Linked DNA regions of Homo sapiens: regions 1, 3 and 4 are each linked to region 2. The links come from fine-mapping of genetic effects on gene expression. A gene starts in region 2. Each other region holds a variant in brackets. All regions are shown on one strand. Distances are from middle to middle.

Region 1 (8,099 bases), 60 kb after region 2:
AAAGACAGAAAAAGATACATTCAGAAATGCAAGTTCTCAAAAATGGCCTTTTCTCTGAAAGTAAACTAAAAATGAGGAAGCTCTGACATGCAGGAACCAGGAATCTGTCATGAGAGCAAGGGAAGGAGGGCCCAGGATGCAGGCTGTGCCCTGGCCCAGCCACTGTCCAGACTGGAGCAGGACCAGAGGCTCCCGGAAGATGACTCTCCCGCACCACCTCCCAGGTCTGGACATATGGAGAGGAGCTTGATACGTAGGGTGGGAAGTGGGGGCTGAATCAGGGGAGGTCCTCAGAGAGTTAAGCAAATGGAAAGAGAAGCATTAACTCCAAGGAAAGTATAGATGAAGGGAGTTGCAATCATTCTGCACTTGCAGACTCAGCTTTGGAGTGTGTGTGCAGAGCCCTAATAACATGAGCACTGACGTGAGTGGGATGGGTCAGGGAAGGTGGATGAAAGAGGGCTAAATCCTTACATTCTATAATGGGGAATTAATAGATCATGCTTAAAATAAAAATAATTAACAAGGGCCAGGCGTGGTGGCTCATGCCTGTAATCCCAGCACTTTGGGAGGCTGAGGCAGGCGGATCACCTGAGGTTGGGAGTTCAAAACCAGTCTGTTCAACATGGTGAAACCTCATCTGTTCTAAAAATATAAAAATTAGCTGGGTGTGGTGGTGCACACCTGTAATCCCGGCTACTTGGGAGGCTGAGCCATAAGAATTACTTGAACCTGGGAGGTGGAGGTTGCAGTGAGCTGAGACTGCACCACTGCACTCCAGCCTGGGCAACAGAAATAATAATTAACAAGGAGCAGTGTATAAAAGAGACCAGATACCAAAGTATAAATACTGTATAGCTCTATTTAGATGAAGTTCAAGGACTGGCAGGACTCGTCAAATGGTGATAAAAGGCAGAATAGTTGTTACTCTTGGGCGAAGGCATTGACTGGGACGGGACAGGAGAGAACATTCTGGGCAGGTGAAAATGATCCAGATCAGGATCCAGGTGTGATGACACAGTGCACGTGACCGTACACATTCATCAAACTTCAGGCTTACACACTCACAGTCTGGACTTTATGCCAGTTAAAAAAAGAGATAGAAAAAAGCGAAGCAGAAGCCTGCGGTTTATCGATACAGAAGAAACGCAAATAGCTAAAAAAGTCAAAAGTGGTTGCCTCTGGAGAAGGTGAGTGGTGAGAGGGGCAGCGACTAATTTTTTTCTATGATAAGCCTTGTAGGATTATTTGACTTTATTAAATTATGTGGATGTATAACTTTGATTCTTTTAACGGGTAAAAAAAAAAAAACAATTGCGCACACATCACACTCTGCCAGTCCTGGTTTGCTCCCTGCCAGGCAGTGCGCTGCATCGATGAGAGAAGGACTTGCCAGCTGGTGCCATACAGTTATCTGCAAGGCTGACTTAAATGGACCCAGGGCCCTGCTCCTGGCTCCTTCCTTGTAAGTTGTGGAGGGGAAGGGCTGGCACCACTTGAGCCGCCAGCTCTGGTGTCAGGGGCCTAGAGGCCAACCATGTTCCACGGAGGGCAAGAGGCACTGCCCAAGGGCGCTTGCTGTTTGGTAGAGCGGTGGCGGTGGCAGGCTGCATGCCGGAAACTCCCCAGCCGCCTGGCTCACAAGGAATGTTCCCAGCTTGCTATGGGTGACCAGGCCCAGACAGCAGGTGACCATCTGTGATAGGGGCTCAGACTCACAGAATGCACGGTGCACAGAATGGGGCCTGAGCCGTGGCCTTGCCCCTCCTGCCCCAGTGCCCACCTCCTCACCTCGAAGGTTTCGGATGAAGTCCTCCAGCATCATCTTCCGGTCAGGCTTGATGTTGGGGCTGTACATGTCGGTGTTGAGGAGGATGATGGCGAAGGCGAGGATGAAGATGGTGTCGGGGTTGTGGAACTGCTGAACCACTTCGGGGTTGCACATGCAGTAGCGCTGGCTGTGGGGGGGTCAGATGCAGAGCGGACGCTGAGCCCCCGCCCACCCTCCCCCGGGCCCAACAAAGGAAGGGGGTGTCCAGGGGGTATCCCAGCTCTCCGAAGGCTTTAGGTCCAGGGAGACCAGTGTCTGTCCCATACTCTGGTCTTTTTCCCCACACCCCCAAATGCCCCACATTTCCAGCCTGGGGAGCTCGAGGGGTCGGTCCCTTTTCTTCCCTTCCCTTGTTTCTCCCCAGCCATCCTCCTGCCCACACCAGAAGGGGTGTTTCTGGCCCAATGTCCAACCCTCCTGATAGCATCTCCTGTCTCCCAGGCTCACAGCGGCCCGGCTTCCCCACGCTGGGGTCTGTTGGGGAGTGGAGCTGGGAAGCGGCCTTACCTGAAGGCCTCAATGAGCCGCTCCACCTTCTGAGCCTCCCCCTGCACACGGATGTGTGCCTGGAACTTGCGCAGGGCCTCGTCCAGCTCCATGCTGGAGAAGTCCATCTCGTCCACCACGCAGCTGAGGGCAGGCAGGGAGGGTGTGAGGTCAGGTGGCACCCTAAGCACCCTCCAACACCCATTCTCGCTGGCCTCTGTTCCCAGCCAGGACAGGTGCAGGGCCCCTCAGGCTACTCACCCCCGGGGGTCGCCCTTTAATGCCCCAAGAGGACCATCTCCTCCCACCTGCCACAGTAGCCCTTTCGGAACCCAAACCCTGAGGCCAGGAGAGGCTTTGGTGGCCCAGGACACAGGGGTGGAGGGAGGCTGAACTCGGATCTTCCAACTCCAAATCCCAGTTCCTTCCTTCTTAACCTCAGAGTACCCCAAGCAAAGCTTTCAGCATAAATAATACAGTAAACATATTGATTCTTCTGTTCTTTCAGAGACCCGCTAGGAGCCTGTGTTTCTCCCAGGTTTAAATTTCACTTTCTCATTTAGGTCTTGAGGGGGCTGAGTCCTCCGTTGGATCCCTTCTGCTGTAGGCTGAACAGTTAGGAGCAGAGCCCCTCAAGCCCCTGGGGCTTTCTGCAGCCCAGCTCCCCCCAGCTGCCCCAGCTCCCCACAGCTGCCCCAGCTCCCCCCAGCTGCCCCAGCCCTCAGGGGAGGCTGTGATGGGAGGCACAGCCTAAGAGTAAATGACAAATGTGCCTAACGTGAGGGGACAGCGTGACACGCAGGGTCAGATTCTGGTCTGGGCCCTCCTGCGAACTTGGTGTGACTCTGGCTTGCCCACTCACTCCTGGGGCCTCTGTGTGACCTTCTGAAAAGGGAGGAGGCTGGAGTCCCTGCTCCCCAAGGGCCTTGCTACCTCTGAAATGCTGCCTCCAACCCTGGGGGGTTTGCCTGTGAACATCCCGAGCTTCAGTGTGTGTGGGTGGGGGTGTGGGGTCACATGCCAGTTCCCCCCAGCTAAGCAGGCGCCTTCCTCTGGTCTAGCCCGATCCAGGGGACTCTGCACTGCAGGGTCTGAGGCCGAACCCTCCCAGTCCCCTCACCCTGCCTCACCCTCCTTTGGGGTGCCCTGTCCCCAGGGCCATGTGCAGCAAGGCAGGAGTCCAGGCCTGGAAAAGCAGGGGACCCAATGTCCCCTGGGCATTGCTTTCCCTTTGGGAGACGCAGACCAAGCGCGTTAGATTGGGCTCTTGGAGCTGACGTTTGCCCACTCTACACCCACTCACCCTAGTCTCCTCCCACTGGCTATGGCACAGCCCCTGCACTGCCCCTGACACTGCCCACTGCCGGCAAGCAGTCCCACTCTGCTCCCATGGTCCCCTGGCCTGCCTGCCCACCACATCGAGAGCACAGAAAACGCCTGCTGAGTGGCCCTGTGATGGTGACATGAGCTCTGAGGTGGACCCACTTCCTCCATGACCTCAGCTTCCATTCGTGCCCACTGCCTAGAAGACTTGGAGACCCCCAACTCTGCCGTCAGTTTTTAGGAGAAAACAAGGGGAGACGCCACAGTGGAGGTGGTCAGGGCCTGGTGGTCCATGGACTCCGCCTCCCACAGGTTTCTGGGGAGAACAAGGAGAAAAGTGCATCACCGAAGACTCTTAGAAAGGGAGGGGGCGCCGAGAGGGAGCTGGGAGTCTCTCCTCCTCTTTCCTTTTCGCCTCTCTCCCGTAGGCAGGGCCCATGGCCATCTTCAGGCTATGAGTTGTCCTTGGCTTGGTCAAAGCCCACTCCTCTCAGGCTTGCTGGCCGGGACAGTGGGCAGGTGAGGGTGGGGCTGGGGTGGAGGCCAGCATCTTGCCCAAGCATGAGAATCGGCAGCACCAGGATCAGGGCATTTGAGGTTGAGCTGACGGCTGGGGAACAGGGGCCTCCAGAGCCAGCCAGGCGAGAGGCTGCTCTGATTTCCCGGTGGCCCTCCTCACCTCCACCCTGCACCCTTTGCAGCCCTACGTGAGTGCCAAAGGCCCTATGCGGCCACATCCGTGTGTTCCTGTAGCCCAGCCCATCAGGAGTCAGCAACTGGGCACAACAGAGCCACACAGTGACACTGTCCAGGGCTGGTGACCAAGAGGCTGTGGTCCGATGAGTACAGAGAGAGCCTGGAGGAGGTGAACCAGCATGGTCACGCAGCAAGGGGGTCAGAGCGTGTGGGCCAGAGAGATGGGGCGGGGCAGCGAAGGACAAGGAAAGTCTAATTCGACAGAGAGCAAGGAGAGAAAGGGAGGGACAGGCAAGGAGGAAAAGGCAGGAGAGAGATCGCAAAAAGGGAGCAAGACCGGAGACTGAGATAAAGAACAAGCAAAAAACAGAGACAGGGAGGAAGGCGGAAAGACAGAGAGGCACGAGGAGAGGAAGGGACAGGAGGGGAAGAGGAAGAGACAGAAGAAGTCTGGTAGAGATGAAGATGTGAAGTGCACCGCGGACTGTGGTGGGGGCGGCATGGAGCGGCCAGATGCCA[C/A]CCTCTCAGCCCAGGGGCGCTGACTCTTATGAGGCCAAGAAAGAGGCCTGGGTCCTCAGGGCCCCAGAACGGCCCTTGGTCCCTCTGAGTGCCATCCTGCTGCTCCCCAGGACTTGCCCCCATCTGTCGTGCACCCCACCCCTTCCCTGTTTCTGAACGCTGAGGTCCTGGCACCCGGCTTCCCACATCCACGTTCCTCCCAGAGCCTCTCTCTGAGTGCCTTCTGCCCCAGGGCTATGGACCAGGTCTCACCCTGCAATGGTGGGGGTGCTGGGAGGCCCAGGGCACTGTGGGGGCAGGCTGCCGCAGAGGCAGCGGGAGCAGCTGGTGAGGGTGGCATCTGCCCAGCCAAGCACGATGGCCTAGTTTCCAGCCCTTCACTCAGGTGACAAGCAGCCGTTCACTCACTCAAGTCTGCTGCTAAAAGCCCCGGTAGTGAGCTGAGAGCCTGAGAGCCAAGGACCGGGATGGGGGAAGCAGCCAGGTTGAAAAGTCGGCCCACAGAATGGGAGTTGAATACACCCCTCGTGGGCCTCGAAGCGGGGAGGGCTGCAGGGGTGGACACTTGGGCTGTGGAGCTGGAAGGGCCTCTCATCCAACATCTTCCAGTGTGTGCTCTCAGGACCCCACAGCGGAGTCATAAGGTGGTTTGTTAAAATGCAGCTCGCTGGACCCCACCCCAGACCCAGCAAATTAGAATATTTGGGGGCAAGTCCTGGGAATCAGCATTCTCTGCAAGATCTCCCGGTTGTTCCTAAATTGTGAAACCAAAGACTGAGCTGAGTGCAAGGGTAGGCCTCACTGCGGCTTTTAAAGTGAGTCCAGCAACTCACAGGCCACCAGGCAGCCGTCCTTAGGGGCATGTGTCCCCACCTGGCTATCGGGGCTGCTTTTGCATGGGGGTGGTGAGGGAGGGGTGGATGGAGGCATAAACAGATGTAGTTCTTCCCCTGGCTATGCACCTGCCGTCCTGCCTTCCTCCCCTCACTGCATTTGCCACCACAGGGTATCTGTGTTTCATGAACAGGTGCTATTCTGGGTTTCTCAGACCCTGGGGGAAAAAATGACATTTTCTGGCTGTGAAATCCCTAGCTGGAAGGGAGGAAGCTGTGCTGAGTGGTGGGACACTCTACCCTCCTGCCTGAGGAAGGCACTTCCTCACTGGAGAGCTGGGGGTTGGACCAGGTGACCTCTCAGGACTGGCACCCGGAGGCACGGGCCATCTCTGAAGCACTGCAGACGCTCCCAACGGCAGGGGGCAGACGACCCGCAGCAGCACTCCTGGCTGGCTGGTGGCTTCATCCCCACCCTCCTCTAGGGGGAATCACTGATCACTGTTTGCGTTCCTGATGGGGCCTGTGTCATCCTGGGGAAGGTGGCTGGGGGTGGGACTGTGCTGTCTACCATAAGCCCTGCTCATTCCAGGGTCCGTGTCCCCCTGGAAGCACCTATAAGCCTCGGCCCTCTACAGCATGAGCCTCCTCTGTTCACTCCCTGAGCATAAGCTTCTGCTTGCACCGTGCCCTCTTTTGCTCCCTCCCCTTCTCTCACTCTCTGTCCTGCTGCTTCTCTTATTTTGCAGTGTCTACCAGCACTCCTAATTCCCACTTTCCAGCCTTCTTTGCTGCCCTGGAATCCTCTTGGGGAGCTGAGTGTGGGCAGTTTACCAAATCCATGCTGCAGCCTCCACCCAGGGTGGCCTGGAGTCATCTCTCCTCATTGGTCATCTTTAAGGTAAAGAGCACCACACATTCCCGGGTGGTCTTTTCTGGTGTATCATCTCCCCATTTTACAGAAGACAAAACTAATGCCACGTAGGGCTGGCCCCATGCTCCCACAGCTAGGGAGAGCAGGCTTTCAGCTTCCTAATCTTGTGAGGCCTCTCCCTGCCCCACTGGGCTCTCTTCTCTTCACTCCTGTGTGTGTGTGGGGTGGCAGGGAGGTCCCTTACTCAAGTCGGGGGAGTTCCCTCTGAGCTCTCTGTACTGAGTATGGCTCTAAGTGCTTCACTATGTGTGCAATGACCTCATCTTCTCAAGCTTGTGCAATATGAACCATTGTACCATTATGTTTTTATTACATATGAGACTGAAGTACACTAGACAGCCAGCCCTACAGGCGTGCTGCACACATCTCATTCCTTGCTGACATCTCCTGGGGCAGGTGGTCCCCTGTGCCCTCCTCTCCCTCACCTCTCCCTGGCTCTCTGCTGCTCAGTGGCTGGCACTAATGCATGTCTTCCTAGGGGCTGTGATCTTACCCAGATGGCTTGGTGGGGACCTGTGAGAGGCCAAGGAGAAGCCCGTGGACACAGTTACACAGGAGAGCCTCTTGGTGCATGCGTGGGCAGTCAGCACGGGGGCTCTGTGGTCACCCTGCAGGTTCAGAGCTGGCCTGGGCACCTGGAGCCCACAGCAGGGTCCATATCGCTGACCTCCTGCCTTCCCCTTTCTGGTGCTTTTTGTGCCCTGTGGCAGTGGCTGGTTGACTCTTTCAGCAACGAGCACTGAGTGGCCCCGTGTGCAAGGCTGTGCTCGGGACCTGGTGTAAGTGGCCAGCAACACAGTCTCTGTCTTGGTGGGAGAGACAGGCATTGAACACAGAGTCAAAAATAATTCTTTACCTATAGTCATGATGAGTTCTATGTAGGGAAACGACGGTTCCAGGAGAGGACAAAGGAGATATATTTTATATTGTATGTCTGGAAAGGACTCTTTGGGGACATGGCATTTGAGCTGAGGCCTGAAAGATGAGTAGGAGGTGGCCAAAGGAAGGAGAGAGGGGAGAGCTGTCAGGTGGGCTAAGGGAGGAAGCATATGCAAAGGCTCACGGCAGGGAGGAGCTTCAAGGACCTAGGCAGGGTCCGCAAGGTTGCAGTGCAGACAGTAACAGGGAGAATGGTGACTGTGGGGCAGCAGCCAGGGCTCAGTCTGTCAGCTTTGTGGGTCATGAGAAGGATTTGGGAGTTTATCCTGAATGCACTGGGACACAATAGAGGGTATGATCAGAGGAGCGACAGGGTCCTGTTTGTTCTAAGAAGATTTCCCTGGCTGTTGGAGAGAAAATGAATGGCAGAGGGGCAGGGAAGAAGACAGAAGCAGGGGCCCAGTTAGGATGCTACTGCAGAGGTCCAAGCTACAGATAATGGGGCTTGGGCTAAGGCAGGAGCAGTGGAAACAAACTGAATGAATGATCCAGCTGCATCTTAGAGGAAGAACAGATGGGACTCGAGGTGCAGGGAATG
Region 2 (8,086 bases):
TGCAGGTTGGGTTCTAAGGTTATAATACCTGTCTCCATCCGTATGACCAAAGTTGCCGGAACTGCCGGCCTCAGCGGGAATGTGGGACCCAGATGTGATCTGAGTCGCATCGAGGAGCTTCCTGATGGTGGAACACGGTGTGAGAGTCACCTATTGGTGTAAGAACCCGGAGGTGTGCTTCCAGAACTTGCTGCGTGTCTGTGCAGTCACTTGGAATTCAGGTTCTTTGCTTCGCAGTTGCAGAAAACGCCACGCACTCCTTCTCCAAGCAGGGCTTGTCGTAGGGCTCAAAGGAGGTAATGGGTGTGAGGGTCCTTTCCGTCACTTGGTGACACGTGGTGTGAGGTCATCAAACTGGAGGGAGGTGGCTGAGGGGGTGAGGCTCTAACAGCGCAGGTGGGACTGGCAGGCAGAGAGATGAGAATGCTGCTGGCTTGGGTCGGGGTCAGGGTTGAGGGAAGGAAGGAAGGAGTACCTCGGCCTTAGCCAGAGGGGCTGAAGCGACGGGGGTGGGGGTGGGGATGGGGGGGTGTAGGGCAGCCGAGTCAGTGACCTGCTTCCCTAGCCTGGAGGGGTGGGCGCTATATCTTAGAGTTCCCAGAGAAGAAGACCCAAAAGGAAGGGAGCCCTCTCTTGTCTGGAGGCCACACCTGTTAGAGAGGAAAGGCAAGCAGTGAGAGCCTGGGGGCAAGTTGAACAGGGAGAGCAGAAGCAGAGGTGGCGGGAGAGTTACAGACTATGCCCAGGGCTGCGGGAAAGCAGCTTGTTAGGCACTGAGCCCACCAGGCTGCGCGGGGCCTCAGACCTTGCCCACATGAACACCCAGGTCTCAGATCCACACACAGGCATGCAGGCACCAGCCCCTCCTTATCCTCAGAGACATGTGCACATGTGCACAAACTCAGAGACGCCACAGCCAGCTGAGCATTCTCCTGTAGAGGGGCTTGCAGGCCTGGCTTGGATCCTGGCCCTTTGACTTACTAACTGTGTGACCTTAGGCAAGCTAACCTCTCTGATCCTTAGTTTTCTCTTCCATAAAACAGGAATACTGCTACTTACATCAGTGTTGTTAGAGTCCAGCAGATGCTATAGGGACAGCTGCCCTGGGGACACATTCAGTCAAACCCATCCTATTTCCCATAGCTGCAGCCCCACCACATCGGACTGTCAGCATCACAGAAAAGTTCAGGAAGAGTTTAGAGATATCCTTGCTGTCCCCAGTCTCAGACTAGGTTGCACTGGGCTCCAGGAAGGAGGCTACACATTTATTGAGCTAAGCATTTTTTTTTTTTTTGAGACGGAGTCTCGCTCTGTCGCCCGGGCTGGAGTGCAGCGGCACCATCTCAGCTCACTGCAAGCTCCGCCTCCCGGGTTCACGCCATTCTCCTGCCTCAGCCTCCCGAGTAGCTGGGACTACAGGTGCCCACCAACACGCCCAGCTGATTTTTTCTATTTTTTAGTAGAGATGGGGTTTCACCGTGTTAGCCAGGATGGTCTCGATCTCCTGACCTTGTGATCTGCCCGCCTCGGCCTCCCAAAGTGCTGGGATTACAGGCGTGAGCCACCGCGTCCGGCCGAGCTAAGCATTTTCACTAGAAGGCAAGGAAGACGTAGTCCTAAAATAATCCTGGTCCTGTGGCCTGAGGGTGCTACTCCACACTCTTCACCAAGTGACAACACAGAGCAGTACTGTCCAAGATAAGCAGGACCTGAGTCATCTGAGCCCTCTGATTCTGGGGAAACAATGTCCTCCCAGAAAAGGGAAAACTGTAATCATTTTTCCCCCTTCAAGTTCCATTCATCCACTCGTTCATCCATCCATCCGTCCATCCTCCATCCATCCATCCATCCATCCGTCTGTCCATCCATCCATCCGTCTGTCCATCCATCCATCCATCCATCCATCCATCCATCCATCCATCCGTCCATCCATCTGTCCATCCATCCGTCTGTCCATCCATCCATCCATCCATCCATCCATCCATCCATCTGTCCATCCATCCATCCATCCATCCATCCTCCATCCAATGAACACTGAGTGCCTATTCTGAGGCAGAATTGTATTAAATGCTAGAGGCAGAAATAAAGAATTATGAAATGAGACCCCTGACATATAGATATTCATGGTCAGGGGAACAGTATGCTTCAGTGGAACAAGCATAGATTTTTGGAGCCAAGAGGCCCAGGTTCAAATCCCAGCACCATCACTTACTTGTGTGTGGCCTTAGGACAAATCACTTAGCTTCTATTTATTCACCCCAGTTTCCCGTCTGTAAAATGGGGCTAATAATTTTTACATTTCAAAGTTCTTAAGGGGATGAAATGAAGTAACATGTAAAACTCCTCGTCCGAGTTAGATGCTCAGGAAATAAGTCCTATTCCAGGCCCTCTGAAAGTATGGATGAGATTAGAAGATGAGGGTGGTGAGAACATTCTGTGGTGGCCAGTGGTTCCTACTGCAGCAAAGGTGATAGATTCATTCAGCTACCTGTCGTCTTCACCCTGCACACTCCTCAGTGTGGAAACAGCCCAGTCTCAGCTAGGCTTTCCAGGATGCCTACCTTTTGCAAAGATGAGAGTCTCTGGCCTCCAGGAGTTTACTAACCAGTCTGAATACCAAGTGGGTCTTGGAGGCTAGGAGAACTTGAGTGAGGAAGGGCTCAACATTAGAGAGTCTCTGGCCTCCAGGGGTTTACTAACCAGTCTGAACACCAAGTGGGTCTTGGAGGCTAGGAGAACTTGAGTGAGGAAGGGCTCAACATTAGAGAGTCTCTGGCCTCCAGAAGTTTACTAACTGGTCTGAATACCAAGTGGGTCTTGGAGGCTAGGAGAACTTGAGTGAGGAAGGGCTCAACATTAGAGAGTCTCTGGCCTCCAGGGGTTTACTAACCGGTCTGAACACCAAGTGGGTCTTGGAGGCTAGGAGAACTTGAGTGAGGAAGGGCTCAACATTAGAGAGTCTCTGGCCTCCAGAAGTTTACTAACCAGTCTGAATACCAAGTGGGTCTTGGAGGCTAGGAGAACTTGAGTGAGGAAGGGCTCAACATTAGAGAGTCTCTGGCCTCCAGAAGTTTACTAACTGGTCTGAATACCAAGTGGGTCTTGGAGGCTAGGAGAACTTGAGTGAGGAAGGGCTCAACATTAGAGAGTCTCTGGCCTCCAGAAGTTTACTAACTGGTCTGAATACCAAGTGGGTCTTGGAGGCTAGGAAAACTTGAGTGAGGAAGGGCTCAACATTAAGATGGTGGGACTAAGGCCAGAGGCAGTCAGATAAAAACAGGGAGGGACCAGGTAGCTCTTTTGGGGGAAAGTCAAACTGTACCCCCTGGGCCAGGTCAACCAGGCAGCTGTTCTCTGACAAGGTGAAGGAGAGGTGACAGGACTGCTGGGCTGTTGCTGTTCATCCTCACAGAAAGCATGTCACACTGTATGTGCTAAATATAATTTTTGAGGGAACCAACAAGGAAATTCACCATCTTGGCTTGTCTGATCCTCTCCCCTCTTTCTCCTTTTTATGGAGAGGCTGGTGTTTTGTTCTGGAGTAGCTGTAGCTAGGTGATCACATGGACTTTGATGTCCCCTCTGCAATAACTCTGTGGTCAATCCATGGTGGACCTGACATGCAGGGACAGGCCACACCTGAGCACCGGGGTAGCTCAAGTATGGATTCTGGCTGGGCCATGTCCTACTGTGCCACAGCTGACCCCCAGCCCGGCTTCTGCTTTCATAGAGGCAATGGGTCTGAGAGCTGAGACCTGCTCTGCCTTCCTCTTCATGTGGAACCCCACAGGAGAGGCTGAGAGGGGCCCGAGAGACATATCGTGGGGGTGCTTGATGGAAAACTACAGACTGAGAGTCTCACTTCACACCCCACCCCTGCTGGGAAGTTCTAAAATACACAGAGGAAGCACATGTAAAAGGAAATTTCCCTTTCTCCCTGCAACTTCCTCTCCCTTCATACCACCTAGAGCTGAAGAAGCACCTCCTTTGTCTTGAAGGAGGCACCAGCTATTCTGAATGAAGGGCGGTGGGACAGTGCTGTACCCCACACCAGGTGGGCGTGCTCAGGGACAGTGACCAGGACGCTGTTCTGGAGGAGCTCACTGGGCACACGGCATAGGGCACATGTATTCAAAAAATACCCTTCCCCATTGATAGCTGGCAGGCCACTCCAGACAAATTCTAGCTAGGTGCCTGGTGCTATGCAGTGACCAGAGGTGCCTGGGACCAGACACCCCACCATCCCAGCCTCTGCTTCCAGAGGACACACAACAAACACCCACACCTCCCCTTAAGCACCTATGATATCCCTGCACCCTCACAGCAACCCCGCAAAGTAGATATTGTGTTGTTACCTACCTTTGACAGACTGGGAAACCAAGGCTGACCCTTGCCTAGCTGTCGTGACTGATACATGATAGAGGAGGAGAAGAAACTCAGGTCTGTCTGGTCCCAATCCTGGGTCCTCTCTACATTGCTTCTTGAGGTACGCTCTGGGTGCTTTCTCTAGGAAAATCCCAAGGAGAAGGGTTGTGAAGGTCCAGGGCCTTGCCTAGAAGCCACAGAGGGCAGGTACTTGGTGGAAAACTCCAGCGTGTGATTCACCCTCCTCCCTTGCCCTCGTCAGTGAGGTCACCTCCCCTCCCAAGGTTCTCAGTTTATAGCCTGGAGTCTCTGGTAAGAGAGGGCTGTCCCCTGTGCTGCACATACCCGTCTCCTCATCCCTGGGAAGGAGATGGTTCTGGAGGGGGATAGGGGAAAAGGGGGAAGGGGGAAGGGCAAGGAGGAGGAGGAGGGGAGATGAGGTCAGGGTGTGAGTCTCTGAGCCCCTTCCCCTGCCCAAGGGAGCAGCAGCTCAGCCCAGCTCTGGAGGGGCCATCATGGGACTGTGCCCACGGGGAGGGCACCGGTCTGGAGACAGTGGGTTCACAGTGGGAGTGGGATGGGGGTGGGAGCGCTGGGGACAGAGGACTTGACTTCCTGAGGTTGGATGTTGTAATCTCGGTTCACAAACTTTTGGCCTCAGTCCCTCCTGCTGCTCCTGGTATTTCTCTGTCCTTTCACTCCCCAACACACACAGCCCCCGCCCCAACACATACACACACGGCTTCTTTCTGTCTGGGAGTCCCTGGACAAGTCACATGGGATTCTGCGCTGGGAGGAACAGGGTAAGGCGTGAACGTGGAGGGCAGTTTCCCTTTCAGGTCCCGGCTCTCTTGGCTTTCCCATAAGCAGCTGCCTTGGGACTCTCCTGGAGACCTGATGCCCACAGCCAAGCTGACCACAGGAGCCGGTGCTGGGGACTGAGGTGAGCGGGAAGTGGAGGGGCTGGCTCTGTCTTTGCAGTCTCCAACTGCTGCTCAGAGGGGCTGGAGGGATAGAGCCCTGGGAAGCGAGACTCTGTGGAACTGCGTGTCTGCAGCGGGGGGCAGGACCTGCAATAACCTCAGGCCAAAGGGCAAGTCTGATGCCCACGACTCTCAGGACAAGGGGTGCCCCCTAGCTCCGCCCCATCCAGCGTGGGAGCAGCTCAGTGATTAGCCTGTGGAGCAGGAAAGTCCAGCGATGGGCAGCTGGTCACGGCAGTGGGTGAAAGCAGGGGTGGTCATCTGACGAGGGGAGGGGAAGCAGGTGGTGCCCAGCAAGGTGGAAGGAGAAGTGGACAGGAGAAACCTCGGGGCATTCCCGAGGGCCCAGGAACTGCAATAAATGATCACAGGTGAGGGGTTCCTGCCCGCTGCCTGCCGGCTGAGCGTGACGAGCTGGGTGCCAGGCGCCTCCCAGGAGGAAGCTGTCTTGGCTTTGGGCGGTGGATGCTATGGGTGTGCTTGTACCCGAGGGGGGCACTCAGGGGAGTTGCAGGCAGCCACCAGCTGAGACCGGCACTCACGGGGTGTGAAGGACTACAGAGAGAGCCAGGTTTTGGTGCCATGCACACAGGTATGTGTGTGCGAAGGGACGTGACGGGAAATGGCACCAGTGTGTGTATGGGAATGGGTGTTGGTATGTGGGTGTGGACTGAAGCAGGGGCTGGGTGTCCCATCCCCCCGTGTGCAGGGTCTGAGCTATTCCTATGCTGGACTGGGGAGCAAAGGGGACAGAGCTGGGATCCCAGCAGCACATGGGCAGCAGCATTTCTGGTCTCGTCTGCACCTCTGCTAGCCCCAGCTGGGCCTCTGGCGACATGCCCAGCTCCTGAAAACAGACTTAACTTTGGACTTTCTAGTCTCTTGAAGATTTGCTCTCTGGGCAGCACCAAGCCCGGTGTGGAAATTGGTGTGTTTGCTTCTGGAGGGCACTGAAGTATGATGAGGCCCATCCCCCACCCCTCACCCCCCTGTCCCGGCTTAGCAAAGCAGGTGGGCGGCCTTGGAGGAGACTCGAGGGGCTGGAGAGGCGGCCAGCCGAAGCTGGAGGTGGAAGGGCACAGCGGGGGTGGGGTGTGTAGTCCTTTGCCTTTTAAAAGTAGCCCAGAAAGGAGAACTCAGTACAGCTTGTTTTGGTGTCTAACATCCTCTGGGCCATTTCTTCCCTGAGTCTAACTTAAATCCCTCTTGCTGCAGTTTAAGCGTGTTCCCTCTTGAGTTACCACGGCTCGGGGCCAGCTGTCCTTTTCACTTGCTCTTGCTTTCATTCTGCCGTTCTGGATTTTCATTCTGAACCACAAGTTACGCTCCTCCCGATTACTTTTTTATTTTCATTTTTATTTTTAAAAAATCATGTTGCGTCAGTGTCGGTTCACCAGCTCATGTTCTCTTTTTGCACTTCCCCTATTTCTGATGAAACCCAAATCCTGGGCCCAAACTGGATTCTGTGATTCGCTTCCCTGCCCCTGCGCCCCTCCGGCTTTCCCTTCATTTACTCCTTCCCCCAGCAAGCCTCCACTCTCCCAGCCCTTGAGACCACCTTGGTCCTGCCACAGCTGCCTGTGGTCTGGAAACAGTAAGGCTCATTTCTGACCACCGCCCTAAGGGCCCTTGTGCTTGGGGCTCGCCCTGGGATTAGCAACGCTATGGCCCGCGAGTAGAGGCGGTCAGTTCTCCGTCTCTTTATTGAGTCTTGTTTTTATCCCCTCACCCTCCGAAAACCCCTTTGAGCAGTGGTCTTTCTCTCTTCCAGGGAAACTTAGAGTTCAGAGAGGGGGTGTGATTTGCCTGAGGTCACACAGCAAGTTAGAGACCCAGCTCCACGACTCATTGTCTTGGTAAGTGTATTCTAGCATTGAGAACAGTGTCCCCCAGGCGCTGCAGGTGCCAGGCACTGTTCCTTAATCTCTTGGAGCTTCACTTCCTCACACATAAAGTGGAGCTAATAGTGACACCTAACTTCAGAGATTCTTAGGAGGATGCACTTCAATAATACGTAGAAAGAGTGCCTGTCTTTAACATACTGCTGACTCAGATGTCAACCTGTTGTTATTATCATTAACAGCTAGATCTGGATTAGAACTTGGGTTTCCTATCTGGTGCATTTTCATGCGTGTTTTCAAGCTCGCTCACTAGTTTGTTAATTTATTTGGTGATGATTCCAGGGTCATTTCTCAGGGTGCCTCATTCCTAATTCTGTAGCAACATCCACATTTGGGTTCAGATGTTACCAACTTCTCCCCTGGGGCCCAACTCCCCATTTTTTCATCCCCAGGCTCCAGTGCTCAAGGCCCCCATGGGTCTGATCACATACTCTGAACCCAGAGGCTCTCTTTCCTCCCTCTTTTCCCCTGCCTTCTCCCTCATAACAGAGACTCAAGGCCTCTGATTCCCACTGGGTGGCTATCCTCATCCTCCCTCCTGGGCTGAGCTTACAGTGGAAGGCTCTGAGTAGGTCCCAATACCAGAATTTCACTCTGACATGCTTTCCCATTCCTGGGATAACCTGCACCCTCCAAGTCACCTTCAAAAATTTCCATTACCTCAAATGGCTCCTGCCCACGCCTTTCTAACTGACTTGGGCTTGGGCTGTTGCCTGGGTTAAAAGGACCAGTAAATAAACACAGACTCTTCCTTAATAAAAAGAATCCCTGTTTCTCTAGAGCCTTGGAGGAGCGTGGGGCACTTGGTAGACCTGGTCGCTTTGATTCCCTCAATAC
Region 3 (8,099 bases), 88 kb after region 2:
AGCTCTGCTCACTTCCCTCTAAACCCCAGGAACCAGGAGGAATGATGGCCTCGCCCCCTGCCAAGAGAGCAATTTCTCAGCTTCTGCCAGAAGAAGCAGCGGCAGGGGCGCGGGGGCCTCCGTCTCTCTAATGAGCCTCTCAGTGTTAATTAGAACGTGCCCCCTTCTTTCAGGTTGCTGTGGCAGCTGAGCCTGAAGAGGCCGCTGAAAGATGGCGGCCAAGCCAGAGGGTGGGGAGGAAGAGCCGCTAGCTGGGGGGCACAGTGCTGAGGAGCGGGGGCCAGGTGTGGGGAGGAAGAGCCGCTAGCTGGGGGGCACAGTGCTGAGGATCGCGGGGAGGTGTGGGGGGCTTCCAAGGGTTTGTTCCCATCCAAGACTTCCCAGTTGAGACCATGAAAGCACAGCATGTTGTGAGCCTCCAGAACTTGGCCTGGCGAGCCCGGGTGTGAGGCTGAGGAGCAGAGAGACTGGGGAAGCTGGTGCTTTGGGGGTGTTCAGAGAGGCCCACAGGAGCCTTGGGTCTGTGCTGGGCAGGGCTGTGGCCTCCTGCAAGGCAGGGGACTCATGCCTGCTCTGTGTGCCCTCCTCCCAGCCTGCTGTCTGGAATACAGCAAGTGCTTGACACGCAGGGCGTTGAGGCCTGCCTGGGAGTGGGCAGCCAGGTAGGCATGGGGGACACGCTATGGCTCAGCTAGTAGTGAGGTCATGAGACCCTCCAGTGGGGCTGCCCCAGGAGCTGGCTCTGATCCCAGGTTGGGCTGCCTGCCCTCCTCATGCTCCACAGACCCTGTGTGCCACTTCCATGGGGCCTGTTCCTCACTGTAATGCCAAGAGATGGTGGAAGGTACAGGGTCGAAACCATGGGCTGCGGAGTCCATGTCTTGGCTGCATTACTTCCTAGGACTGTGTCCTTGGGCAAGTTACTTAACATCACCATCACTCAGCCTTAATCTTCCCATTCCAGAAATGGGACGGTAATGGTGCCAATCTCACGGGGACGTTGTGCAGACCCGGGGAGATAACACATGGCAACCGTTAGCCTGGGCCTGACACAGAGCTAGTGCTCAGGTAGTAACACTGGTGCTGGCCCCGTGTCTGCCCACCACTGGGCTGTGGGCACCCTGATGACTAGGCCTGTATCTTTTGCATCATAGCATCTCCAGGCCTAGCACAGGGCCTGCGACAGAGCAGCTGTGCAGTGCTGTTCCCTGAACTGAATGAACCGGGGAGAGGGACAACCCATGGAGTGCCCTGTCCTCACCACTGTCCTCTGTAGGCTGGTGCCCTGGTGCTCTCTGTGCCCATGGTAGAAATCTCACTTTCAGCGTGGGAAGGGGCCAGGAGGCCCTCTGGTACAGCCTTTGGTTCACACATGAGGAAACCAAGATGCAAAGAGGGAAAGTGACTTAGAAACATAGCCACCACATCTTCCTGAAGAGGTGCCCCATAGTGAGGCTGGACCCTGAGGCTTGGGGTATGGGGATCTGTGGGGAGGGGCTGCTCTCCAGCAGAACATGGCTTCTGTCCAGGACCCGGCTCGGGGAGCAGGGCCCAGATTCTACTGACTGCAACTCCACAGCCCTCTGGCCTGAGCAGCCCAGAGGGCTCTGCAATTCAGATGGCTAAGAAGGGCTCCAGTCGCTCTGCAACAGGACACAAACTCCCTAGAGGGCTTGGAGGAATTTCAAAATGACACCTAGGCCCTCTATTCCTAAAGGGCTCCCCAAAGGGACCTGCATGCTCACTCCTTGGCCTGCCCTAGGTTGTATCCCCCAGGACTGCTGGGGTGGGGTGAGAGGGTCGAAGGCAGAGGGAGAAGGGGAGAAGAGCTGGCAGGAGGACCGTCTTGCTGTGCGACTTGTGACAGGTGCTGGGGAAGGGGCCAGCAGGGAGAACAGGAAGCTGGAGGGTAGGCCTCGTTTGCTCATTCACTTGTGCCTTCATTCCTATGTTCCTTCCCTGCTGAGCAGTTCCTAGGTGCCCAAGACTGTGCAAGGTGCAGGGCGGCAAAGATGGGCAAGGACAGGACAGTTCCCAGGGCACAGCTCCAGGAGCGCTGGCTCTTCACGTGGGCTATGCAGCACCCTGGAGGTGTCCCGAGCACCACCTGCTCAACTCCACACAGCCCTGAGAACAACATGGTCCATGCTGTTGAGCGGAACAGCTCCCACTCCCAGACAGCACAGAGGAGGCAACAGGCAATGGGTAAAAGCACGTGCCTCGGCTGCGACCTGAAGTATGAGCAGAAGTCTTCCAGATGCAGCAGATGGGGTCGGGGACAGGTGAGGAGAATCCCCAGGAGAGGAAACAAAGCCACACAAAAGCCCAGAGGTGAGGGTGGCTTGAGATTCGGGACAGCAAATAGGAACGGCTGGAACCCCCATGGGGCTGGGACTGTGGCAGGGAGCCTGGAGAGGCCTCTGTCCTGCACACCGTGAGGAGCCATCAGAGGCTTTCCCGAGGATCAGCGCGGTCAGAGGTGCACTTTAGGAAGATGATTCAGCTGCAATGTGGAGGTGAGGTTGGAAGGGACAGAGCTCAAAGAAGGGGAAGCACAGGAGGTCTCCCGGCGTGCAGGCAAGAGGAAGGATGGCCTGGCCTCCTGGGGCAGGGGCACTGGGGAAGGCAAGAGAGGGTGGGATTCGGGAACTGTTAAGAGGCAGCATCAGTGGGGCTTGGGGCTAGAGCAGAGGCGAAGGAAGGAGAACAGCCAAGGAAAACCGTCCTGGGGATCTGGACTGGCTGACAGAGGAGGCTTGGCGGGTCGGTGGGCTGGGGAGCTAAGATTGTCCAACACCCCTCCCAGGCCATGGAACACGGGATTCAGTGTGGCTGGCGGAATCACTGGGTTGGAATATCAAGTGTTAGATCTCAAAGAGACCTAAGGCAGAGTCAGTTCCTGGCGCCATGCTGTATACCCATCCCATCCCCCTTTATGTCACTAAGTGATCATTTCCCGTCTCTTATCCTTCCAGCAGCTTCTTCGCCAGGCACTGCATTAAGCACTGAGAATATAATGAGGAACAAGTCATGCACCTGCCTTCAAGGAGGGGGTCAAGCAAACAGGAAATGCTGAC[A/G]CAGGGCTGAAGGGCTGTGACGGGGACACCCGGGCCCTGTGGGATGACTGAGAGGGACACCCAGTGCAGGCTTGGGAGGCAGGGAAAACTGCCTGAGAGGAGGAAGAGGTACCTAAAGCAAGTACTAAAGCAAGAGAAGGCCAAGTGCAGGGGTGTGGAGGGGAGCGGAAACTTCAGAGATTGAGGCCAAGGGAAGAGCCTGTGAAGTCCCAGACATAGGAGGCAGCTGAGGCCAGAGAAGTCAAGCAACTTGCCCAAGGCCATACAGCTCATGGCAGAAGAGAGAGGAGTCGAGTTCAGTCTCCTATAGATGTGTGCCATGTTCAACAAAAGCCAAAGTTGACAAATGGGATCTAATTAAACTAAAGAGCTCCTGCACAGCAAAAGAAACTACCATCAGAGTGAACAGGCAACCTACAAAATGGGAGAAAATTTTCGCAACCTACTCATCTGACAAAGGGCTAATATCCAGAATCTACAATGAACTCAAACAAATTTACAAGAAAAAAACAAACAACCCCATCAAAAAGTGGGCAAAGGACATGAACAGACACTTCTCAAAAAGTGGGCGAAGGGCCTGAATGTCTTATGCTAGTGCTGTGGGGTTTTCGAAGCTGGGAGCAGAATTTTAGATTTTTCCACATTTCATCCGACTTTTTTTTTTTCATTAAAACCATCCTTCTGTCCTGATGAGGTGTTTTTTGTTTTGTTTTGTTTTGTTTTGAGACAGAGTCTCACTCTGTCGCCCAGGCTGGAGTGCTGTGGTGCAATCTTGGCTCACTGCAACCTCCGCCTCCCGCATTCAAGGAATTCTGCCTCAGCCTCCTGAGTAGCTGGGATTACAGGCATGCGCCACCACGCCTGGCTAATTTTTGTATTTTTAGTACAGACAGGGTTTCACCATATTGGGCGGGCTGGTCTCAAACTCCTGGCCTCGTGATCCACCCGCCTTGGCCTCCCAAAGTGCTGGGATTACAGGTATGAGCCACCACGCCTGGCCCCTGATGAGGTTTTTACAAAGTCTGGGATGCTATCACCAAGGTATCAGCTGTTCTCTTTCAGCTTTATGTCATCAGAAAGCCAGGTGAATGTAACTTGTATGCCTCAAATTGGTGCCTTATCAGTGACCTGGACAGCATGTCCACTCAACTCCCTGGGATTTTTTTTGATGAATATTTTTTGGATAATTCGGTTTGAGAACAACCCTCCTTACTATATTGTTAGTAATCCACACATTCCTGGCATGTGCACATAGGGTATCTTGGGGGATTTGGTCAAACACTTTACTGATGTGCTGCCTACAGCTGGCCTGAGCCAGGATATGAGCTTGGCATCAATGCCAAGAGAGGAAGGAGGTTAGTTTGGCTTGACTCAGTCTTAGTGGCCTTCCCACTAGCTTCCTTTCTGAAGATACCTTGCCTATTGGGTTGAAGAATTGTTCTCTAGAACCTACACATTTTGGGGCAGAAGGGACCTTGGAGGTGATTCAAAGTTAATTCTCATTTTTTTGCAGATGAGGAAACGAATGCCCAGAGGGTTTAACTGGCAACTCCCAAAGTCACTGAGTTCATAGGAGGAAGAGCGAGGACTGGATCCCATGTCTACATCTCCAAGTTCAAAGCTCTTTCCTTAACAGTATCACACCATCACACCTTTCTCTAAGCGCACACACACACACACACACACACACACACCTTCCATCAAGACTCTTGTCTGCCAAGACAAACTGAGGCATTATCTTTTTTGGGGGTTCAATGGGGGCCCCACAATTGGCCACTTTCTCTTCCTGAATGGAAAATGGAGGCCCAGGCCCCTCCATGGAATCTGTTCTCCAATAGAGGAGCTTTGGACTCCCCCAGTCTGGACTGATCTTGGGAATCCTGTCTGCTTCGAGGAGACCATTGTCTTTGTGCCTCGTTTGTGCCTGTGGGTGCCTAACACCGGCTCCCTTGGTGGGCGTGGAAGCTGGACTATGGCCTCTAAGCAGCAGATGGAGGTGGGGACACCCCAGAGAACAGTGGGCTCCTTGCCTAGTGGTCAGTGGGGCGGTGGAGGCTTGCTGAGCACTGTGTGAGGAGCAGAGCCCCTGGACGTGCTGCCCAAGGGCCTGGCATTGCGAGGGTATGAGCCCTGCCATGGTAGAAGGCAGAGGCCTGTGGCTGGTCCAGGGAAGGGCAAACTAGGTCGCTCAATGCAGGAGAACTGTGGCAAAAGAGGTGTGCCTGTAGCGGAGGGGACCCAGCGGGGATATCCCTGGTACCCTCGACAGCCCCCAAAGCAGGGCCCCTTCACCACCCTCCCCGCCCCCCTAGGAGGCCCTGGGTACCTGTTTATTCTTTAGGTCAAGGGAGAGTTCGTAATCGGAGGCGGCAGGGGCGTGGGGGCACAGCGCCGTCGCCAGGGCAGGCTGCTGCCGGCCGGGGGAGGCCTTGTGCTGGGGGCCAGCCCTTGGGGAGGCAGCCCCTGCCCCCGGCCGCTCCTCCTCCTCCTGCAGCTCCTGGGCTTGAGCCTTCGGGGCATGGGCACTGGGTCTGCCGGCTGCCACCGCCGCCGCTGCCACCACGGAGTCCTCCATGCCCCCACCGGCCTGGGTGCAGGAGCCATCACTGTGAACAGAAGGCAACGGTGCTCGGTTGGGGGAGAGGGCGACAGGGTGCGTGTGGATGTGGGGGTCGGGGAGAGAAGCTAGGCACTCTGGCCTGCCTTTCCTGTGGCAAGGACTGGAGGGGGTGTCTTTCACAGTCTCCTCTAGGGAGGGGCTACCATGGCAGGGATGAGCCCTGGGCACGGAGAAGAACCCGCACCTGGGGAGGCAGCTCAGACAGAGGGAAGGGGCAGCTATGGCCAGGGCTCAGGAGCCTCTGCTTAGAAGCAGTATGGCAGAGCGGTGCATCTGGGCTCTGCCTCTTACGAGCTGTGTGACCCTGAGCAGGTCACTCAGCCTCATTGCACCTCTGTTTCTCCATCTATAAAATGGGCACAGTAACAGTACCTACCTCACAGGGATACTGGCGGCTGAAGTTACTTACAACTCTTTAAGCTGTGCCTGAGTCATGGTGACTGCTACATGTGTTACCTATTGTAAGTATCGGTGGCCCGGCTCCTTGGGCACAGGCTCAGGTGGCTGGGGAAGCTGATCTACACTAAGCCAGCTCATCTTTAGACTGACCAAATGAGTCTGGAGGAGGCAGGGTGCCTGGCCTGGCTTGGGCATAAGCCTTTCCAGGGGGGTGGACTCCAGGTGTGGGGGCTGCGGCTGTGAAGAGGAGGCTTCCTGCCCTGCTGGGTTTAGAAAACACCTGCTCCTCCCTGACCCATCCTCTGTTCCCCGGGAGCCACAGCAGGCTGAGCCATGGCTGCAGCCCTCCTGCCTACTCTAAGAAGACACCTTGCTGCCTGGAGCAGACATGGTCCAGCCTGCTTTGTAGAGTTGGTTCCCTCAGATTGCTTCCTTCCCCACTAGCCTCCAAGTTCTGCCCCTCCCTTGAGGCCCAGTGCTAAGCCACCTCCTCCATGAGGCCTTCCTGGACGACTGCAGCTTTCACTGCTGTGTCTCCTGGAACACTAGGAGCTGTCCTTAGAGAGTCACTGTCTATTTCCCAGAGGAGGAGAGTCATCGTGGTTAACACCATGGCCTCAAATTCAAGCTCTACGACTGTGTGGCTTTGGGCAACTGGCTTTTCCTCTGAGTCTTGGTTCCCTTGTCCTAATTCCTACCTTAGGAGGTCCTAGTTCCTACCTTAGGAGGTTACAGTGAGGAAGAAAGGAGGCAGCAGAGGTCAGGTGCTTAGCACAGAGTATGTGCTCAGTAAATAAACTTTCTTTTTCTTTTCTTTTTTTTTTTTTTTTGAGATGGAGTTTCACTCTTGTTGCCCAGGCTGGAGTGCAATGGTGAGATCTTGGCTCACTGCAACCTCCACCTCCTGGATTCAAGTGATTCTCCTGCCTCAGCTTCCCGAGTGGCTGGGATTACAGGCATGCACCACCACGCCCAGCTAATTTTTTTGTATTTTTAGCAGAGACAGGGTTTCACCATGTCAGCCAGGCTGGTCTCGAACTCCTGACCTCAGGTGATCCACCCGCCTCAGCCTCCCAAAGCGCTAGGATTACAGGTGTGAGCCACTGTGCCCGGCCCAGTAAATAAACTCTTATTTCCCCAGCTATCCCTTCCTAGAAGCCAGGGCCTATGTGTTATTTCATTACGTCCCCCAGCCCCTTCATGCTGGGCAAATGCTGAGTGCTTAGTCAACACTTGTTGATGGTGAACTGAGGAGAACCCAGGGGCCACGGGGATGGCTCTACAGTGGACAGTGACAGAAAATCAGGACTGGAAGGGACCTCAAGGTCATCTAATGCAGCCTCCCAACCTCCCCATTTTTATAAATGAGGAACAGGGGCCCAGGGTGGTGGGGTGGCCCTGGTGCAGGACAGCTGCAACCTAAGGACTTATGTCTTCCAAGACTTTGCCACCATGAAAGATGGGCCAAATGACACCAGAGGAGGGACCTCTTCCTGCGGCTTCCACTGGACCTTAGGGTGCAGAGAGGTGTTCCTCCTGGTGCTTCCTCCCAGCCAAGGGTGGGGTTGAGAATCTCCCTTCTCTCAATCTCCATCTGCCCTCCCAGCACTCTCCTGCACCTCTGGCAGATAAAGGAGTGCTTGCTGGCTGGCCCTGGCCGTGAAAAATCTTCATTGCTGCTGCCTTTTTCTATGTCCACCATTTCTTCTGTGGCCACCAATCAAGCTGCATGGCTCAATATAGCTCTAGATGTCTTTTTTAAAATTATTATTTATTTATTTTTGAGCCAGTGTCTCACTCACCCAGGCTGGAGTGCAGTGGCTCAATCACAGCTCACTGCAGCCTCAACCTCCTGGGATCAAGCAATCCTCCCACCTCAGCCTACTGAGTACCTGGGACTCCAGGTGGGTACGCACCACCACACCGGGCTACAGGTGGGTACGCACCACCATACCGGGCAAATTTTTAAATTTTTTTTGTAGAGACAGGGTCCCACTATGTTG
Region 4 (8,099 bases), 31 kb after region 2:
CCAATCGGCACTCTGTATCTAGCTCAAGGTTTGTAAACACACCAATCAGCACCCTGTGTCTAGCTCAGGGTTTGTGAATGCACCAATCCACACTCTGTATCTAGCTTCTCTGGTGGGGACTTGGAGAACCTTTGTGTCTAGCTCAGGCGTTGTAAACACACCAATCAAAACCCTGTCAAAACGGACCAATCAGCGCTCTGTAAAATGGACCAATCGGCTCTCTGTAAAATGGACCAATCAGCAGGATGTGGGTGGGGCCAGGTAAGAGAATAAAAGCAGGCTGCCGGAGGCCCTAGTGGTAACCCGCTGGGGTCGCGTTGTGTGCAGTGGGTGCTGTGTGTGTGGTTTGTTTTTTTTTTTTTTTTTTTTTTTTTTTTTTTTTTTTTTTTTTGCTCTTTTGCAGTAAATCTTGCTGCTGCTCACTGTTTGGGTCTACTCTGCCTTTATGAGGTGTAACACTCATTGGGAAAATCTGCAGGTTTACTTCTGAAACCAGCGAGACCACTGAACCATCGGGAGGAAAAAAAAACTCCAGACGCGCCGCCTTCAGAGTTGTAGCACTCATCGCGAAGGTCCGCAGTTTCACTCCGGAGCTGGTGAGACCACGAACCTACCAGAAGGAAAAAACTCCGAACACATCTGAACGTTAGAAGGAACAAACTCCGGACACGCCGCCTTTAAGAACTGTAACCCTCACTGTGAGGGTCTGCGGCTTCATGCTTGAAGTCAGTGAGACCAAGAACCCACTTACTCTGGGCACACTTTCATCTCGTTTCCTTTGGTGTTTGAGTTGCAGACTGGTGAACAGAGGCCAAATCTGGCAGCTACAATTTGGCCAGTGTGGCATGAAAAAATTGATTTTTGCAGCAGAAGCCCTGAGGCATGCTGGAGTTTGCCACAGTCTTCCCACTTCTGTCACACCTGGTTTTCTCACATATTCGCTTTTGCGTTTGAATTCATAATCTGTGCCCTAGCGGAGAAAGTGAGAACTTTGGGCAGGGGAGGGAACAGGAGCCCTTGGGTGCGACGCAAGGGACAGCAGAGGGCAGTGGTTGGGGGTCCTGGTGCCTCAGAAGGGGTGGTGGTAGCAGGGTTACCACAGGCTCCAGCCTGCTCCGGTGTGGACCTCACACCCTATGATGCTATTCATCCATGAATCCTGGGTCAAGTCTCTCTCCCACCTGGACATTCTCCCGAAGAAGGGTAGTGGATACCTCTAATTTCAGAGCTACATCTCAATAGATGTGTTAACATCAGCAGCGCCCACGTGGCAGAGTACACCAAAGCTTAATTGTCTGGGGGGACAGTTGGCCCAATAGAGAGGCCCACGTGGAATCCAGGCCTCCCACTAATGGTCAACAGCAGCAGCTTGCTGCAAGGTGAATACACTGCGTGGAAATGTATCCTCCCAGCTGGCCAAGGCTTCTAGTGGCAGCAGCCCTGGCTGACACAGGGACTACAGCCTTACAGAGGCACTGAGCCAGAAATGCCCAGCCAAGTGGGCCCCAAATGCCTGACCCCAGTGAGAGGTGAGAAATGCATATGGTTGTTTTAAGCCGTAAGCTTTGGGGTGATTTTTTACACAGCAGTAGATAATACCTATCCTTGGATCCAATTGCTTGCAGTTCCTTCACCTGGCTGACAGCTGCTGTGGCTGCCGGTGGAAGGCCTCGGCTCCTCTCATGTGGGCTCTCTGTTGGGTCAAGTGTGCTCCTGGACAGCTGAGCTTTAGCGTGCACTGTGGCCTGTGGGTGCTGTCGTGGCCACTTCCCAGAGCGCGAGAGTCACCCTCTTTGAGAGTCAGGCGTGGCCCCTCTTCAGAGGCGTCCCTCAGCCCCCTCGTGCCCTTCTGCCTGAGCCTCCTGCCTCTCTGCCACAGCCTCACCTCCTCTGACCCCTCCAGAGCCCTCCCCTGACCCTGGGCTCACCCTGTCCTTGCTGTGAGGAGGTGAAGACTGGCTGTGTCTGTCCCTGCCACCTCCGTGCTCGCATGCCCAGCTTCCTTGCAGGTTCTGCTGCTCAGTGAAGTAACAAGGGCTGATTGGATCTAACAGGGATGAGAAGCTTGTTAACCACCCATTGATGCAGCGGCCATGGGAGGATGTGTTTGCCAGACAGGATGGGGTGAGATGAGAGCCAAGCCTGGCAGGTGGCACAGGGTTGAGGTGGGTCAGTGCCCTGGGCCCTGGCGACCCGCACTCCAGCGCTCTCTGCTTCCAGTCTGGCCACAGCAGGGGCAGATGGCCTGTCAGGTCTGAGGAACCTGCTGGCACGTGACTGGGAAGTAACGGGAGGCGAGTGCAAGTTGCCAGATGATGCCACAGACAGAGAGGGGAGCTTGCTCCCTGCCAAGGCTGAGTCCTTGCAGGCTCGTGTCCATCCACAGGGTCAGTGCATAACCTGTGGCTATAACAAGAGTCTAGCCGGAACTTCTGGTGCAGTCACATTCTGAGGCTTTTTCTGCCCAAGCACATCTCACTAACACACAGAGGGTGGCTGTCACATCCAAAAGGCCCTGGCCCCGAGGCCAGAACTCTGACACTGCACCCCAGCATGAGGGACTCGAAGTGGGCAAGTCCCTTCCCCAAGCAGGACTCAGTCCCCATCTCACTAAGACACGGGCACAGGGAGCAAGCAAAGGTAGCCAGAGTGGGTCCTGAACAAGTGCATTTGGAATTTGGGTTTGTCATGGAGAGGAGGTTCCGGGGAGCAGGACAGAGGGTAGCCATGACAGCGGGTGGGGCCGGGGGAGCGGCCTTACCCGGCCAGCTGTCCGGAGACCTGGGCTCACTGTCCAGCCTCAGCCTTTTCCTCTGGGTTAATTAAAGTTGTTGTTTTCCTCTTGGTTCTTTAGGGTGTTTTACATAGACACTCAGACTGTCTGGAAATAATGACAGTTTTATGTCTCCGATCATGATTCTTTCTCTTATCTTCCTTCACTTGGTAACTAGAAGTGGTGGCAGCTGGCATCCTTGCTTCCTTCCTGGTTTTGACAGGAACCCTAACATTTCATTAGGAAGTATGACGGCTGATGATTTTTTTTTTTTTTTGAGACAGTTTCATTCTGTCCCCCAGGCTGGAGCGCAGTGGCTTGATCTCAGCTCACTACAACCTCTGCCTCCTGGGTTCAAGTGATTCTCCTGCCTCATCCTCCCCAGTAGCTGGATTACAGGCATAAGCCACCATGCTTGGCTAATTTTTGTATTTTTATTTTTTTATTTATTTATTTTTGAGACGGAGTCTTGCTCTGTCGCCCAGGCTAGAGTGCAGTGGCGCCATCTCAGCTCATTGCAAGCTCCGCCTCCCGGGTTCACGCCATTCTCCTGCCTCAGCCTCCCGAGTAGCTGGGACTACAGGCGCCCGCCACCACGCCCGGCTAATTTTTTGTATTTTTAGTAGAGATGGGGTTTCACCGTGTTAGCCAGGATGGTCTCGATCTCCTGACCTCGTGATCCGCCCGCCTCGGCCTCCCAAAGTGCTGGGATTACAGGCATGAACCACCGAATTTTTGTGTTTTTAG[T/C]AGAGATGAGGTTTTGCCATGTTGGCCAGACTGGTCTCGAACTCCTGATCTCAAGTGATCCACCCACCTCGGCCTCCCAAAGTGCTGGGATTACAGGTGTGAGCCACCATGCCTGGCCAGCTGATGATTTTTGATAGATATCATTTACTGGGCTATGAAGTTTTCTTCCATTCCAAGTTCTATAGGTTTTTTTCAAATCAACAGTAAGGGTTGAATTTTATGGATTGCTTTTTCTGCATCTATTGAGATAATTATATTGTTTTTCTCCTTTAATTTGTTAATGTAACAAATTATTATATTTTTCTAATATTCAATCATCTGTTCATTCTTGGGGCAAACCCTACTTGGTTATGGCATATTTTTTTTTGTTATTCAGTACTAGGTTCAGTTTGCTAATATTGTGTTTAGAATTTCTGAATTTATGCCCATAAACAAGATTGGTTGGTAGTCTTCTTTTTCTCATACCGTGCTTGTCTGCTTTAGTTTTTGTTTTTGAGATTACACCAGGCTCATGAAAAGGAGTTTGGAGATGTTCTGTTTCTCTTTTCTGAAAGAGTTAATATGATATTGGAATTATCTGTTCCTTGAAGTGTAGTAGAATTTTGTAAAATCATCTGGCCGGGTGTTGTGTGTGTGATTTTTCTTGGGGGTGGGGGCTGGGCGATGGTGAATAGACTTTCCTTCTTTTTTATTTTTTTTGAGACAGAGTCTCACTCTGTCACCCAGGCTGGAGTGACATTAATTTTTTGTATTTTTGGTAGAGACGAGATTTCACGACGTTGCTCAGGCTGGTCTCGAACCCCTGAACTCAAGTGATCTGCCCACCTTGGGCTCCCAAAGTGCTGGGATTACAGGCGTCAGCCACCATACCTGGCCCTCTTTTTCTTTCTTTTTTTTTTCTTTTGAAATAGGGTCTCCCTCTGTTGCCCAGGTTGGAGTTCAGTGGTGCAGTCACGGTTCACTGCAGCCTCAACCTCCTGGGCCCAAGTGATCTGCCTACCTCAGCCTTCGAATAGCTGGGATTACAGTTGCATACCACCATGCCTAGCTTATTTTTAAGATCTGTGTATAGATGGGGGTCTCACTATGTTGCCCAGGCTGGTCTTGAACTCCTGGCTTCAAGTGATCCTCCTGCCTTGGTCTCCCGAAGTGCTGGGATTCCTGGCCCTAAGACTTGTAATTACCTATTCCACTTTAATTTAATGGTTATACATCCCAAATTTTCTGTTTGTTCTTGAGCAAGATTTGGTAAGATATTTTTCTAGCACAGTGTTCATTTTGTGGAGGGTTTCAAAATTATTGCCATAGGTTTATAGTTTATTTGAAGTATTTTATTTTGAAAATCTCTGCAGCATTCATAGTTACGTTCTCCCTGTTGGTCCTCAGGTTATTCATTTGTGCCGTCTCTCTTCTTCGTGATCAGTCTTATCAGAGGTTTGTCAACTTTATTAGTCATTTCTTAGAACTAACTTTTGGTTGTGTTAATCTTTTCTATTGTATATATATTTTCTATTTTATTACTTCTGCTTTTGTCTTTATTGTTTCTTTCCTTTGGGCTTATTCTGTTCTTCTTTTTTAACCTCTTAAGTGAAGTAGTCCCCTTAGCCATAGAAGGATGACTGGCCTGTGACTCAGCCTGCAGGCCTGGCACTGCTGTATGACTCCCCTGCCTTCCATTCCCTCTGAGGGTGCAGGGAGGGAGGCTGACTCCTACCCTAGATGTCTCAGAAGGAAAGGGGATTAGGGTTTCTTGAGGAAAGGAGGGCAGGGCAGGTCTGTCTAGGCAGTTGGAAACGTGGGAGTAACAGCCAGGTCGTCTTCCCAGCAGCCGGTTCCCACAGTTTTCCCAGAGCCAGGCTTGAGGTCACTTAGTCCTTAGGGTCATGGGAGCAGGAAGCGCTGAGGTGCTAGGGGCCGGCTGGTGGGTTAGGCAGCCTGGTTCCCTAGGGAGGGAACCCGTGCAGCCCTGCAGGGGCACGGGAGGGAGGGCGCAGGGGAGGAGAGCACTCCGCCCACCCGCTGAGCTCCAGCTCCCTCTCCTCCAGCCCATCCAGAAGGGAATTCTGGCAGAACCACTTCTGGACCTGTCCCTCTGCACCCCCCATTCCTGCGCCCTCATTTAACCTCCCTGACTCTGACCTGGGCTTGGTCTATCTTGGGGCCTGGCTGCCGTCCTGGGACGGGAAGGGGAGCAGATCAGAACTCAGCCTGCGGCTCCAGGCCGCTGGGCGCTGGCTGGGCCTCACGTTCTCCTGGAAGGACCACCTCCCTTGCCCTCCACGGGGTCTGCCTTTGCTCCCAAGGCTCCGCCCTGGACGGAGCGTCCTTCTTGCCTGGGCGTCTTCAGACCTTCATCTGTGACACCGGGGGCCATGTGGCTCACCCCGAGGAAGGTGAGTGAGGGGACCTGGTGCACAGGGTAGTCGACCGGTTGCTGAGTAGTGAGGAGTCCTGGCAGGAAGCAGCCCTGAGTCCCTGAGCGGCAGAGCTAAGGAGCCAAAGCCAGCACCCCCAGAGCTGCTGTCCGCAAGTGACCTGAGAGCAGTGGCACTAGGAGGGCCACACCTCCCGCCTGCTGCCCCCTGCTCTAAGCTACCTCCCGTCAAAATGCCTTCCTTCCAGGTGTCTCCATGAGGACACCACGGGGCGGTTGGCAAGTTCTTTCATCCTGGAGTCAGCACATGTGATTGATGGTGACTCCCAGAAAGCAGTGATCAATTGGCCACATCTGTCAGAGCTGGGATGGGAGGGGGCATGCCGAGGGCCGCAGCCATGTAGTGCCAGCCCCCTGAAGGAGAAATCAATCTCACTTCCGTTCTGTGGGGTTCACGCTGAGACGTGAAAGGCTGTTAGCCCCTGGACTCCTTGGGACTGCTGTGCAATAGGCCATGGAGTCCATTCCATTATTTAAAAATGGCAAGCCTAGGCCGAGGTGGGTGGATCCCTTGAGGCCAGGAGTTTGAGACCAGCCTGGGCAACGTAGTGAGACTCCGTCTCTACAAAGACAAACAAAAATTATTCAGGCATAGTGGTGCACACCTGCAGTCTCAGTTTACTGGGGAGGCTGAGGAGACAGGATCCCTTGAACCCAGGAATTCAAGACTAACCTGGGCAATATAGAGAGACAGCCTGTCTTTTTATTTTATTTATTTATTTATTTTGAGACAGAGTCTCGCTCTGTCGCCCAGGCTGCAGTGCAGTGGCATGATTCCGGGTCACTGCAACCTCCGCCCCCCAAGTTCAAGCGATTCTCATGCCTCAGCCTCCCAAGTAGCTGTGATTATGGGCTCACGCCACCATGCCTGGCTAATTTTTGCATTTTTAGTAGAGACGGGGTTTCACCATGTTGGCCAGGCTGGAGAGAGACCCTCATCTCTACAAAAATAATAATAGTAATTTAAAAATCAGCAGGGCGTGGCGACATGCACCTGTAGTCTGGGCTACTTGGGAGGCTGAGGCGGCAGGGTCCTTTCAGCCCAGGAGTTGCAGGCTGCAGTAAGCTGTGATCGTACCAGTGCACTCCAGCCTGGGCGACAGACCAAGGCCCCTTCTTTGAAACATAAATACAGGAAAAATTTGAAAATGGCAAACCTGAGCCCTCTTGGTTTGAGGTGACAGAGGAGGAGGTGGACAGCAGGCTGCCTTGACCTGGAGTGGGCTGCTCCCCATCCCTATGCAGGGTCACACAAGCACGTGCTTGCTCTGGGCAGCAGCTGCCTCGGCTCAGGGTAGCCTGACTTCACTGTTGCTGGTTTGTGCTTTCTGCGGTCTACTTCGGTGGCCTGGTCTTCCTGTGGTGGTGGCTGCCCACGTGGCCTAAGCTCTGCCCCACCCCCGGCCCCATCCTTGCCTGTCCAGAGCGCCTGACTGCTCACTCTCAAGCACTTCCTCTCCTGGCCTGTGACTGGTGACCGTCTGCCCTGGATTTGCTAGAAGACCAATTTTGCTTTCCTCAGTAAAGATGTTTTGAATTCATGTTTACACTTAATTCATAAGATTTTTTCATGTAAGTAAACACATATATCAGGAAACAGTTTTTTGACAAACTGTCTTGGTTTCTGCCTCATAAATATGTGGTCATTTGACTTGAAGTGATGGTCTCCGAACTGTTCACCTGCCCTCAGACCAGACCTTGACCTTGTTGAATTCTCCTCCTTGGAGAGGCCTTCCTTGAATGTTCACCCTAAAACAGGCTCTCCCCATCACCCCAGCGGGGTCACCATCCTCTGTGTGAAGGCAGCTGCTCCATTTCTTGTTGATGACACCCCCCAGTGTGAACTTTCCCTGTCCCCTTCACTGCATAGCCCCCAGCACCTGAAACAGTGCTCAGCAGGTGGTCTCAAACTTACGGTTCAGTTCACCCTGATTTCCAGCACTAGCTCTGGGTCACTGCTCTCAGCCAGAAACCAGTACATCCTGGGACCCCTTACTGGGAGCATTCTAAGTCTATGACTGATGAGTCTGACATTCTCCCATCTACAAAGGGTCATTATGGAGGGAGATGCACGGACTGTAGCTCTCCATCCCTACGGCAGATAGGCACAGAGGGGCCTGGACCACCAGACGGGCTCTATCAGAA

Evidence for each region. PIP is the estimated chance that this variant, and not a neighbour inherited with it, causes the effect. A credible set is the group of variants that fine-mapping cannot tell apart.
Region 1: its variant is the best candidate, but not a certain one, in a credible set for the expression of SLC6A12 in whole blood (INTERVAL, PIP 0.65).
Region 3: its variant is the best candidate, but not a certain one, in a credible set for the expression of SLC6A12 in ileum (GTEx, PIP 0.56).
Region 4: its variant is the best candidate, but not a certain one, in a credible set for the expression of SLC6A12 in whole blood (INTERVAL, PIP 0.63).

Annotation. Positions count from the first base shown.
Region 1 is chr12:151,387-159,485 of GRCh38, reverse strand. IQSEC3 (IQ motif and Sec7 domain ArfGEF 3) reads right to left here. Exons shown (of 14, transcript NM_001170738.2): 6 at 2,339-2,461; 7 at 1,792-1,958. Among named protein-coding and RNA genes, the nearest start is that of IQSEC3-AS3, 6.3 kb to the right of the region's middle. RefSeq lists an enhancer at 5,536-6,450. The variant C/A (reference allele first, on the strand shown) is at 4,856.
Region 2 is chr12:211,144-219,229 of GRCh38, reverse strand. SLC6A12 (solute carrier family 6 member 12) reads left to right here and starts at 5,073. Exons shown (of 16, transcript NM_001122848.3): 1 at 5,073-5,308; 2 at 7,120-7,204. RefSeq lists enhancers at 5,192-5,963, 6,675-6,724, 6,736-7,508.
Region 3 is chr12:123,217-131,315 of GRCh38, reverse strand. IQSEC3 (IQ motif and Sec7 domain ArfGEF 3) reads right to left here. Exons shown (of 14, transcript NM_001170738.2): 3 at 5,404-5,683. Among named protein-coding and RNA genes, the nearest start is that of IQSEC3-AS2, 16 kb to the right of the region's middle. The variant A/G (reference allele first, on the strand shown) is at 3,078.
Region 4 is chr12:179,882-187,980 of GRCh38, reverse strand. It overlaps IQSEC3-AS1 (IQSEC3 antisense RNA 1), which reads left to right and starts at 5,573. Exons shown (of 3, transcript NR_183431.1): 1 at 5,573-5,913. It also overlaps a transcript of SLC6A12 not described here. RefSeq lists a silencer at 2,538-2,728 and an enhancer at 5,493-5,994. The variant T/C (reference allele first, on the strand shown) is at 3,521.